2 linked regions of the Homo sapiens genome follow. The gene in region 1 interacts genetically with each later gene. Each region holds a gene or a part of one and is shown on either strand. Other genes may lie near its edges.

Region 1 (4,807 bases):
ACTGAGGTCTCCAGTTACAGAAAACACTGGCTCTGTATCCTGGGCTTTGAGAAAACTTATCAGGCTGTCACACTTACCATCCCTTCAGTCTGCTTGTCAGGTTCCTTAAGGACGCATATCTCAAATGTATGGCATCTACCTCTACCTGGGTCACAACCAAGTGGGTTTCTACTAGATCGGTGTTCCTTGACAGCCAACAAGGGAGCTGACACTGCCCTCCTAAGTTCTGATCTTGCTCCTGTTCAACTGGAACTTGATGGATCCCATGTGGTTTCCCCCATCCTGACGCTGTGGCTCAGACACTCTCCCTAAGCTGGTCCTTCCCTCCAAATCCTGCCTTAAACACACTCAGAAGGTAGAAAACACTTCAGCAGCAAAGTCCTCTTCCCAAGCCAACAGTTGTGTTCTTCCAATCACATGATCTTACCTTTTCAATAAAAGGCAAAACAAACCAATTTCCAACATAGCATTACAGCCTTTAAAACCATTCACTTCTCATAGTGATTCACAGAGAACAAGAGATTAAAGTGCTGGATTTTAAATGTCTAAAGTTGCCTTCAGGGCTACAAAAAGCCCTGCCGTGTGTGTTTTTCCTTCATGGTGTTGAGGGGAAGGAAAGATAGGGAAGGGCAGTGGGGAGAAACCCTAAAATTTTCAATCAGAAACTGGAAATTGTAAAAGTGGGAGGTGGGGAGTTCTGTGCAAATCAATCTCCCAAGGTTCTGCGTCCTCTAGTGAGCCTCAAAGAAAAAAAAAAAAACAAAAAGGTGGGGACTCGCAAAAAGGATGAGGGAAAGGCTCCAGACCTACAGAGCACCTCCCTTAATAAATACCAGTTAGTAAGAAAGAGATGCACCTGCACAGGAATGCACAGCAACAGTGGGGAGGGCCTGAGGTGGAGTCCGCCGAGCACCCTGTCGCCCCACTGAGGCTCCCTTGGGGACAGGCGGTCTAGTGCTCATTCCTTGCCCTACGTGCAGCAGGTACTGTGCAGGCTCTGGAGATGCCCAGTCCTCTGTCTGGACCAGAGTCCACACAGAGCTGAGCTGGGGCAGGAGACTGGCTTTCACTAGGCTTTCATCTGATTTTAATAAGGACCTGGAAGATAAAAGGCTAAATGTGTGGTAGAGGACAAAAAACAAAAACAAACCTGGGGGATAATATAAATACAATCTGGGGGCAATATTTATTAATTAAAACTACGTCTTATAGTTTACAAAGATGCTAATGAACAACAAAAGTATAATTGACCTTTAAAATCCTCAGTGAGACAGAGGCTTCACATCTTCAGAATTCTAAAGTGTGCTCCAGGCAGGGAGGCGGGGCTGTGGCACGCAGGTTCCCAGGGGCAGCACCTGCAGACTGCAGGACTCGGAGACCAAAAGGATCCACAAAGCAAGACTCCAGTCTCCTGTAGAATTCCATTCCCCAACCCCCACTGTCCTTGTATTCCTGCCTCCCCAGATTCCATTTCCAAGGCAAGTCCTCAGTTTATCGTCGGGAGAATCTGTTCTTGAAAGCTTTAATTGTCTTGGCCATCATTGGGGCAATTTCTGTGAAAAGAGAAACAAGGCAGCTGTCTCAGATCTGTGGCGGCTTAGACACACCCCCAGTAGTTTACAGTCAAAGCCAGCTCTGCTATTCTTGGCTGTGCACCACCAGGCAGAGATACAAGTAGTAACTATCTCCTCTGTTCACAATGCAATAAAAGCAACAGCACAGAGCAGACACTTTCGGAGGACCTGCCAGGGGCATGACCACCACTCTCTCTAACCACCTGCACCAAGGCTCAGAGAGCCTGGCCAACTTGCCCATGGTTGTACAGTAAGGTACAGAATTACAATTCAATCTCTGTCAGACTTTCTTGTTTTTATTTTTGTAAGGAAAGAGTCTCACTCTGTCACCCTGGCTAGGGTGCATTGGCACAATCACAGCACACTGTAGCCTCTACCTCCTAGACTCCAGAGTAGCTGAGACTACAGGAGTGTGCCACCATGCCTGGCTAATTTTTTTTTATTTTCTGTAGAGTCAGGGTCTCACTATGTTGCTCAGGCTGGTCTCGATCTCCTGGGCTCAAGCACCCTCCTACCCCAGCCTCCCAAAGTGCTGGGATTACAGGTGTGTGTGAACCACTGTGCCCCGGCCCTTGCCAGACTCTAAAGGCCATACTCAGTCATAACTTAACTTTGCCTCACAAATAGCCAAACCAGTAAACAGCACGTCTACCCCCAATCTGTCCAGTGTAGAAACAGGTCTAAGGTGGCTATGCAAGTACTGCCTAAGGAAGGCCAGCCTGCCTCCTGAATGGTTCATCTGAGCATAGCTGTAGCTCAAGCCAGGACTCCCACCCTCCCATGGGCCCTGCAATTAATACAGAATAAGACTTAAGTTAGGACATCCCCTTAGGATACTGGGGATAGTCTATGGTAATAAAGTTAACAAAATACAAAATAGACGCAACTAGATATAAAGAATAAATATTTGGAAGACCCGGCCAGGCATGGTGGTTCACGCTGGTAATCCCAGGACTTTGGGAGGCTGAGGCGGGCGAATCACAAGGTCAGGGGTTCGAGACCAGCCTGGCCAACATGGTGAAACCCCGTGTCTACTAAAAATACAAAAAATTAGCTGGGCTTAGTGGCGGGCACCTGTAATCCCAGCTACTTGGGAGGCTGAGGCAGGAGAATCGCTTGAACCTGGGAGGTGGAGGTTGCAGTGAGCCGAGATCACGCCACTGTACTCCAGCCCAGGCGACAGAGTGAGACTCTGTCTCCAAAAAAAAAAAAAAAAAAAAAAAAAAAAAAATAAATAAATAAATTGGAAGACCCAATTAGATATAAAGAATAAATATTTGGAAGCTAGAGTTATAAGACTATAAAAAAACAGTAAGAGGGCCTGTCATTTAGCTGTTAATATTAGTAATTATGAACACTGTGGTATTGCCTAGAGAAGTCAGTTTATATTTAGGTGAAAAAAGAAGAGTGCCAAAATGGTCATTCACAATGATATTTATTTATTTATTTAGAGACAGTGTCTCACTCTGTCATCCAGGCTGGAGGGCAGTGGCACAATCCCAGCTCACTGCAACCTCTGCCTGCCAGGTTCAAGCAATTCTCCTGTCTCAGCCACCCGAGTACCTGAGATTATAGGCACATGCCACCATGGTGGGCTAATTTTTCTATTTTTAATAGAGACAGGGACCATGCCTGGCCAGATACTATTTTCTACTTTCACTTTTTTTTTTTTTTTTTTTCCAGAGACAGGGTCGGCCGGGCACAGTGGCTCACGCCTGTAATCCCAGCACTTGGGAGGCCAAGGCGGGCAGATCGCGAGGTCAGGAGATCGAGACCATCCTGGCTAACATGGTGAAACCCCGTCTCTACTAAAAAATAGAAAAAATTAGGTGGGCATGGTGGTGGGCACCTGTAGTTCTAGCTACTTGGGAGGCTGAGGCAGGAGAATGGCATGAACCTGGAAGGCAGAGCTTGCAGTGAGCTGAGATTGTGCCACTGCACTCCAGCCTGGGTGACAGAGCGAGACTCCATCTCAAAAAATCCTCCCACCTCAGTCTCCTGAGTAGGTGGGACTACAGGTGTGTACCACTATGCCCTATTTTTTAATTTTTTGTAGAGGGTCTCATTATGTTGTCCAGGCTGGTCTTGAACTCCTGGATTCAAGGGATCCTCCTGCCTCAGCCTGCCAAAGTGCTGGGATTACAGGCATGAGCCACTGCACCCAGACTCACTATAACTATTTAAGAGATATAATGCACTATGGACAAAGCAGGGGGAAGGAGGGACTGACATTCAGACCAGCTATGTGCAAGGCATCATGTACATGCAACATGCAGTCCACAAAATGTAATACAGTGAATAATGACATTGAGAGTTAAAAACTAGTGCTGAAATAATATTTGAGCAGGAACTCCAAGTTACTTACTCTTCACAGTGGGTTTCCTAGGATCATAGGAAACAGTGCTGCTGACCACTGGTGCCAAGTGGGCACTGCTGGTGCTTGGGCCATCATAGGCCGGCTCCTCAGGGCTGGGGTTAAAGCTGATGCTACTGGCGGAAGCATGGCTGCTTCCCATGGGGTACGGGGCTGGCTTGATCCTGCAACACAGGACAACACTGGTTAGGCATGAGCACAAGAAATCTGCCCTGAGCATGAACAGCCTGAAGCTGGCCTGTGTGAGGATGACTCACCCTGTTTGTGGCTTTGACCAATGGACCCTATCACCCTGGATTCTGGTGGTGGCTCAGAGATGTCTCCATTATCCTTTCAGAAAAAATGATAATCTCAACTAACTTTTCACTGTTTTGGTATAAATCTGTATTTTGAAAAGGCTAATGTGGCTTAGACAAAATAACAATCATTGCAGAAATGTGTTTTTTGTTTAGATGGGAAAAGGGAAAGCATAAGGGAATGTTTCCCATAAGCCAGGCTTTGCTCTCCATTTAATCTTGACTACCCTAGGGCAGGGGTAATTATCACCTTGCACTGCAGTCCAAGAAGCGGAGGCTGAGGGAGGTGAGGGAAGTGCTGAGCTGATGAGGTCTGCCTCCAGAGCCCACAGTCTGCACTGCCTCACTTTCACCAAAAGCAATTTGCTTCCTGCCGCTATGGCTACCTCTAAGGGTTGATAGCACACAAAAGCCAGGTAAGAACACAGATCTTACTTGATTTTCTCAGGGACAGCTGCTCCTCCCGTTCCAAACTTTTCCTGCCTCCTCCGGACGTCACGAGGTGGCTTGGCCACAGAGTTGACAAAGGCCATCTTTGCTTGTCGGCCTGTGGAATTATGGAG
Region 2 (4,706 bases), on another chromosome or scaffold:
GCCTGGACACTGCCCACCTGCAGCCGCTGCACCAGGCCCACCCCCCCAGCAGGGCCCGTGGTGTTCACTGTAGTCCTGGCCCACTACCCTGCCCTGGGAGATGGCCCCTGCGCCCACCCCTCCCCTGCCTCTCCAGCAGGGGCTCTCCCAGCCCCCCACCCACCTCTGTGCCTTGGCACTCACACTGAAAGGGCCTCTTCTGTGGGCATGCTGTGCCTTCCGGAACCCCGGGCTGGCCTGCTTTGCCCATTCCCGAAATCCAATCCTGGCTCTCGCTCCTGCCCATGCCTCTACCCCAAGCTCATGTCCACCCAGCGGCCCCCCGCACAGCCACCCGTGGGGTGCTGCCCTTATGGGTCCTGGAGGCTGTGTCCACCCCACCCCTCGATGCCGGGGGTCCAGGTGCCCAGGGCTCCCTGTCCCTTGCTCCCTCCCAGCCTCCACTCCTTTGCCTAAACCCAAGTCTTCTGGGTCAACCTGGCCAGCCAGTGGCGCTATTGACACCGTCTTGGTGAGGCTGTGACGGCATCTTTGGCAGGGCGAATGCCTGCAATCCACTGACTTCAAGCAAATACTATTCTCCACGAGGGGCCTCTCCTCAGCTGAAGCCAACTTCCCAGTGTCTGTACCTCCTACACGTTTCTCACTGGTGGTGTTTCTTGGCCAGAGCCTCGGTACCCCCCCCCCCGCCAGTCCCAGCGCTTTCCCGGGAAGCCCGGGGCTGCCACGCGGGCTCCTTCCTCACTCCCCGGCCCAGCCCCGGCTCTGGGACATGGCCTAGGGGTGTGTGGGAACTGGGGACCAGAGGACAGAGGGCATCCCCTTCACGGCCCCGTGACTGGGTGGGGTGGAGCTGGAGAGCTTGCAGCTGCCAGGTCAGGGAGGAGGGAAGAAAGGACGGTGGTGGAGATCACATGCGGTTTAATTGTGGGAGGCTGAGAGCAGCATTTTTACCAAATTGGTGTAAAAATGAAACGGGGTCCAGACGTGTACACTGACAGTTACAGTAAATTTCAAAATCCAAGCAGCAATTTGAATCATTTCTTGAAAAACAAACACAGACAAACACCAAACATGGAGTTGGTGCCCGGCGCCGGGCATAAGGGCAGCACCCCACGGGTGGCTGTGCGGGGGGCCGCTGGGTGTGGCCGGGCCCTGTGTGCCTGTGCAGGGGCCCAGCTCCTCGGGGACTGGCCCACGACCCCCCACTCAGCGGGCTGAGCCAATGCCTGGCCGAGAGGGGGCCGCAGCCAGCAGGCTTGGGTGGCTGCCCGCGCCCGCAGGGGACATCGGGGAAATGGGGGCAGAGTGCGGGACCCACACGCTGCCTGAGGAGTCTTGGCAGGGTGGACAGGCCTGGGGGTCTCTACCAGCAATGCAATAAATATGCAAATCCAAGCACAGAAAGACCAAGCGCAGACCCCACGGGCGCACGAGGCCCAGCCCAGTTCCTGCGGGCACGGGCACCACCGGCTCTTCACAGACCAGGAGTCTCCAAGTCGGCAGCTCTGGTGTCCCCGAGGTGCCGTGGGAGGCGGCGGGTGGGTGGGACATGCCTAACACCTACATCTAGCAGCCTCGGGGGGCAGTGGCACTGGGCCGGACAGGGTCCCACCGGCAGGACCCTTCAATCCCGTTGCATGGCGGGGGTGGGGTGGGGTGGGGTGGGGATGGTGGAGTGACCTCCGGTGGCAGGCGGGGGCACGGGCCTAGCCCTCCCGCACGCTCACGCGTGGCTCAGCCAGGGAGCTGTGGATGATGCTGATGATGGACTCCAGGCCGCTGCCCTCCAGCAGCGTGCGGTGGTCACCCTCGATGACGTGGACGGATACTTTCCCGTCGCATACCTGCAGGGGATGCGATCAGCTGCCGTCCCACCCCACTCCTGTCCCTGTCCCCGTTCCCGTCAGGCCCCTTGCGCACCTGGGAGAGGTTGTAGTCCGCGCCCAGGTCCTCGCCGTAGGCGCCACCCGTCTTGGCGCGCAGTAGCATCACGTTGCCATGGTACTTGGCCTTGGGTGTGTACTGCTCAGCGGCACGCAGCTTGTAGTAGAAGGACCGGGCCGCAAAGCTCAGCTCCTGGCGGTCCAGGCCCTGGTGGCTCTTGATGATCAGGTCCACGGCGGCTGCCACACGCTCCTCTAGGCCCTTCAGCGGCAGCAGCGCCTCCAGCACCTGTGGGGTCGGGCTCTGAGCAGGTGCTGGCAGCACCCACAGCACCGGCCTGCCCTGTGCTACACTGCGGGTGGGCTTTTTTTTTTTGAGACGAGTTTCATTTTTGTTACCCAGGCTAGATGGAGTGGGGCGATCTCAGCTCACCGCAACCTCCACCTACCCGGTTCAAGCGATTCTCCTCCCTCCGCAACCTCCACCTACCCGGTTCAAGCGATTCTCCTCCCGAGTAGGTGGGACTATAGGTGAGTGCCACCATGCCTGGCTAATTTTTGTATTTTTAGTAGAGAAGGGGTTTCTCCACGTTGGTCAGGCTGGTCTCGAACTCCCGACCTCAGGTAATCTGCCCGCCTTAGCCTCCCAAAGTGCCGGGATTACAGGCATGAGCAACCGCATCCGGCCGGGATCGGCTATTAAAGGGGTGAAGTTGGGGGGCCTTTAACGCTCTTCGCGTCCCATCCCATCCTTCCCTTCCCCCTTCCGTTCCTGCCCAGTACTCTGGGTCCTGCGGCCTCAGGGGTGTCCAGGACCCACCCTGTTGTGCTCCATGTCCGTGAACTGCTGCACGAAGAAGCATATGGCCTCCGTCTCAGCCTCAGCCTCACAGCCTGGGGTCAGCTTTGCCCGGTAGCTCTGAGAGGAAGGAGGGACTGCTGAGCAGATGGAAGGGGCGGGGCCTCCTAAGCGACGGTCCCCCAAAGCCAGGGCACAGGTGGGGAGCCCAGACGTTTGCCGTAGGCCTCTAGGACCAGCCTGGCTCTCACCTGGGTGTAGGCCAGTACGTAGGTGGGCGAGCCGTCGAACAGGAAGAGGCTGTTGTGGGTGGGGGCTGGGCTCTGCTGGGCCTGCAGCTGGGAGCACATTTCAAAGGCCACGCAGGCCCCGTAGGAGTAGCCGGCCACGCGGTAGGGGCCCTCGGGCTGCACCTGCCTGATGCAGTCGATGTAGTAGGCAGCCAGGCTGTGGATGCTGTCAAGGGGCGCAGCTGCAATGGCAGTGCCGGGCACTCAGCATGTGCAGGCGGCAGCCACGGGCCCCGTGATGGCCAGCACTGACCACCGCTTCCAGAGGAGGGCCCGGGAGTACCTCGGGTGCACTGCAGGCCATAGGTGGGGATGCTGAGCCGGGAGGCCAGGCTGTGGAACACGGTGGTGGAGCCCTCGATTGGGTGCACCAGGAACAGGGGCCGCTCCGAGCTCTGCACGGAGTTGAGCCGCATCAGGGTGGGGCCCTCCGGGTTCACCAGCAGGGAGCGCAGGTTCAGCTGAGTCTGCTGCTGGGCCAGACCATCCTCCTTGGGCGTGGGGCATGCCAGCTCTGTGAAGACAGGGGCAGATGCCAGGCTGGTCTGGGTGCAGAGCCCTGGCACCCACGCAAGGACACACAGACACGCACGCAGGTCCCCACGGTGCTACGTCAGGTGGGAGTCGGGGTGGGAACGCTCAGAATGGCACCCGTGACGAAGGGCGGTATGCCTGCCGGGACACGGTCCAGACAACAAGGAGGAAGGGCTGGGGAGGCCCGGGGACCCCACTCCCGCCTGGCCACCCACACGCACCGCTGGCCTCATCCGCCTTTGAGGACAGCTCCTGCAGTTTCCGGAGCGTGAGTTGCCGCACCTCGCGCACGGACAGCACCAGGTTGAGCTCACGCTCCAGCGTCTGGCGCACCTCCACGCTCATGAGCGAGTCCAGGCCCAGGTCCGCCAGTGAGCTGTCCAGGTTGACAGCAGCCAAGTCGCGGATGCCTGGAAGGGATGCGCCGGGTCGGCAACTCCAGAGGGGGCATGGGGACGGCCTGTATGCGGCAGGGCTGACACCCAGGGGTGCGTGGGCTGTGCATCTCCCAAAGCACCACCACCACAGTGACACCTGCGCCCGCACCCTGGCTCTGCAGATGGGGAAACTGAGGCGCACAGGGGCACGACTGCTATGTCCCAAGACCCTGATGCCAGCAGGGGAAACACCTGGCGCGGCTCCTACTGGGAGTGCTCACCCAGGATGTGTGCCACGGCCTCCACCAGGTCCCGCTGGCTGTCCCTGTCCCTATAGGCCGCAGCCTTCTCAGCCAGCACAAAGCTGCTCAGGACCATGTGGGGCTGGTTCAGGAAGAGGTCCAGCACCTCCAGGCAGGACGCCATGCGCTGGGGCAGCGTGCCACTGACGATCGTGTCGTTGGTGCTCATCGTCTCCACCAAAATGCCCACGTCGCCGATGGCGCCCCACTGCACGGCCAGGCCTGTGGGGGAGGGGGCAGGTGGGCAGAGCTGCGGGGAGGTCGGGGTGGGGAGTGGCCACTGGGAGAGGGTGGGGTGGGCAGGGCTGCGGGGAGAAGGTGGGGGTGGGGAGTGGCCACTGGGAGAGGGCAGGGTGGGCAGGGTCGAGGGGAGAGGGTGGGGCCCACCTGGGAGGCCTTCGTGCCGGCGTTTCTCACAGATACGCTCCATGGCGGAATTGGCAAAGCCGTAGTTGCTCTGTCCCGCATTGCCACGCCCGCAGCTCACAGAGGAGAAGACCACAAAGTAGTCCAGCTCA

Evidence for each region. A genetic interaction does not mean that the proteins touch.
Region 2: changes in ELOA (region 1) and FASN together harm fitness less than expected from each alone (positive genetic interaction), as found in Homo sapiens cells (one large-scale study listed by BioGRID).

The regions. Positions count from the first base shown.
Region 1 is NC_000001.11:23,756,258-23,761,064, reverse strand, and holds part of ELOA (elongin-A), read right to left. Parts: intron 4,792-4,807; coding exon 4,680-4,791; intron 4,113-4,679; coding exon 3,940-4,112; intron 1,554-3,939; coding exon 1,492-1,553; 3' UTR 1-1,491. UniProt on the Homo sapiens protein: SIII, also known as elongin, is a general transcription elongation factor that increases the RNA polymerase II transcription elongation past template-encoded arresting sites.
Region 2 is NC_000017.11:82,077,434-82,082,139, forward strand, and holds the end of FASN (fatty acid synthase), read right to left. Parts: coding exon 4,576-4,706; intron 4,411-4,575; coding exon 4,168-4,410; intron 3,920-4,167; coding exon 3,731-3,919; intron 3,490-3,730; coding exon 3,259-3,489; intron 3,158-3,258; coding exon 2,937-3,157; intron 2,806-2,936; coding exon 2,707-2,805; intron 2,176-2,706; coding exon 1,924-2,175; intron 1,848-1,923; coding exon 1,710-1,847; 3' UTR 905-1,709; downstream 1-904. UniProt on the Homo sapiens protein: Fatty acid synthetase is a multifunctional enzyme that catalyzes the de novo biosynthesis of long-chain saturated fatty acids starting from acetyl-CoA and malonyl-CoA in the presence of NADPH.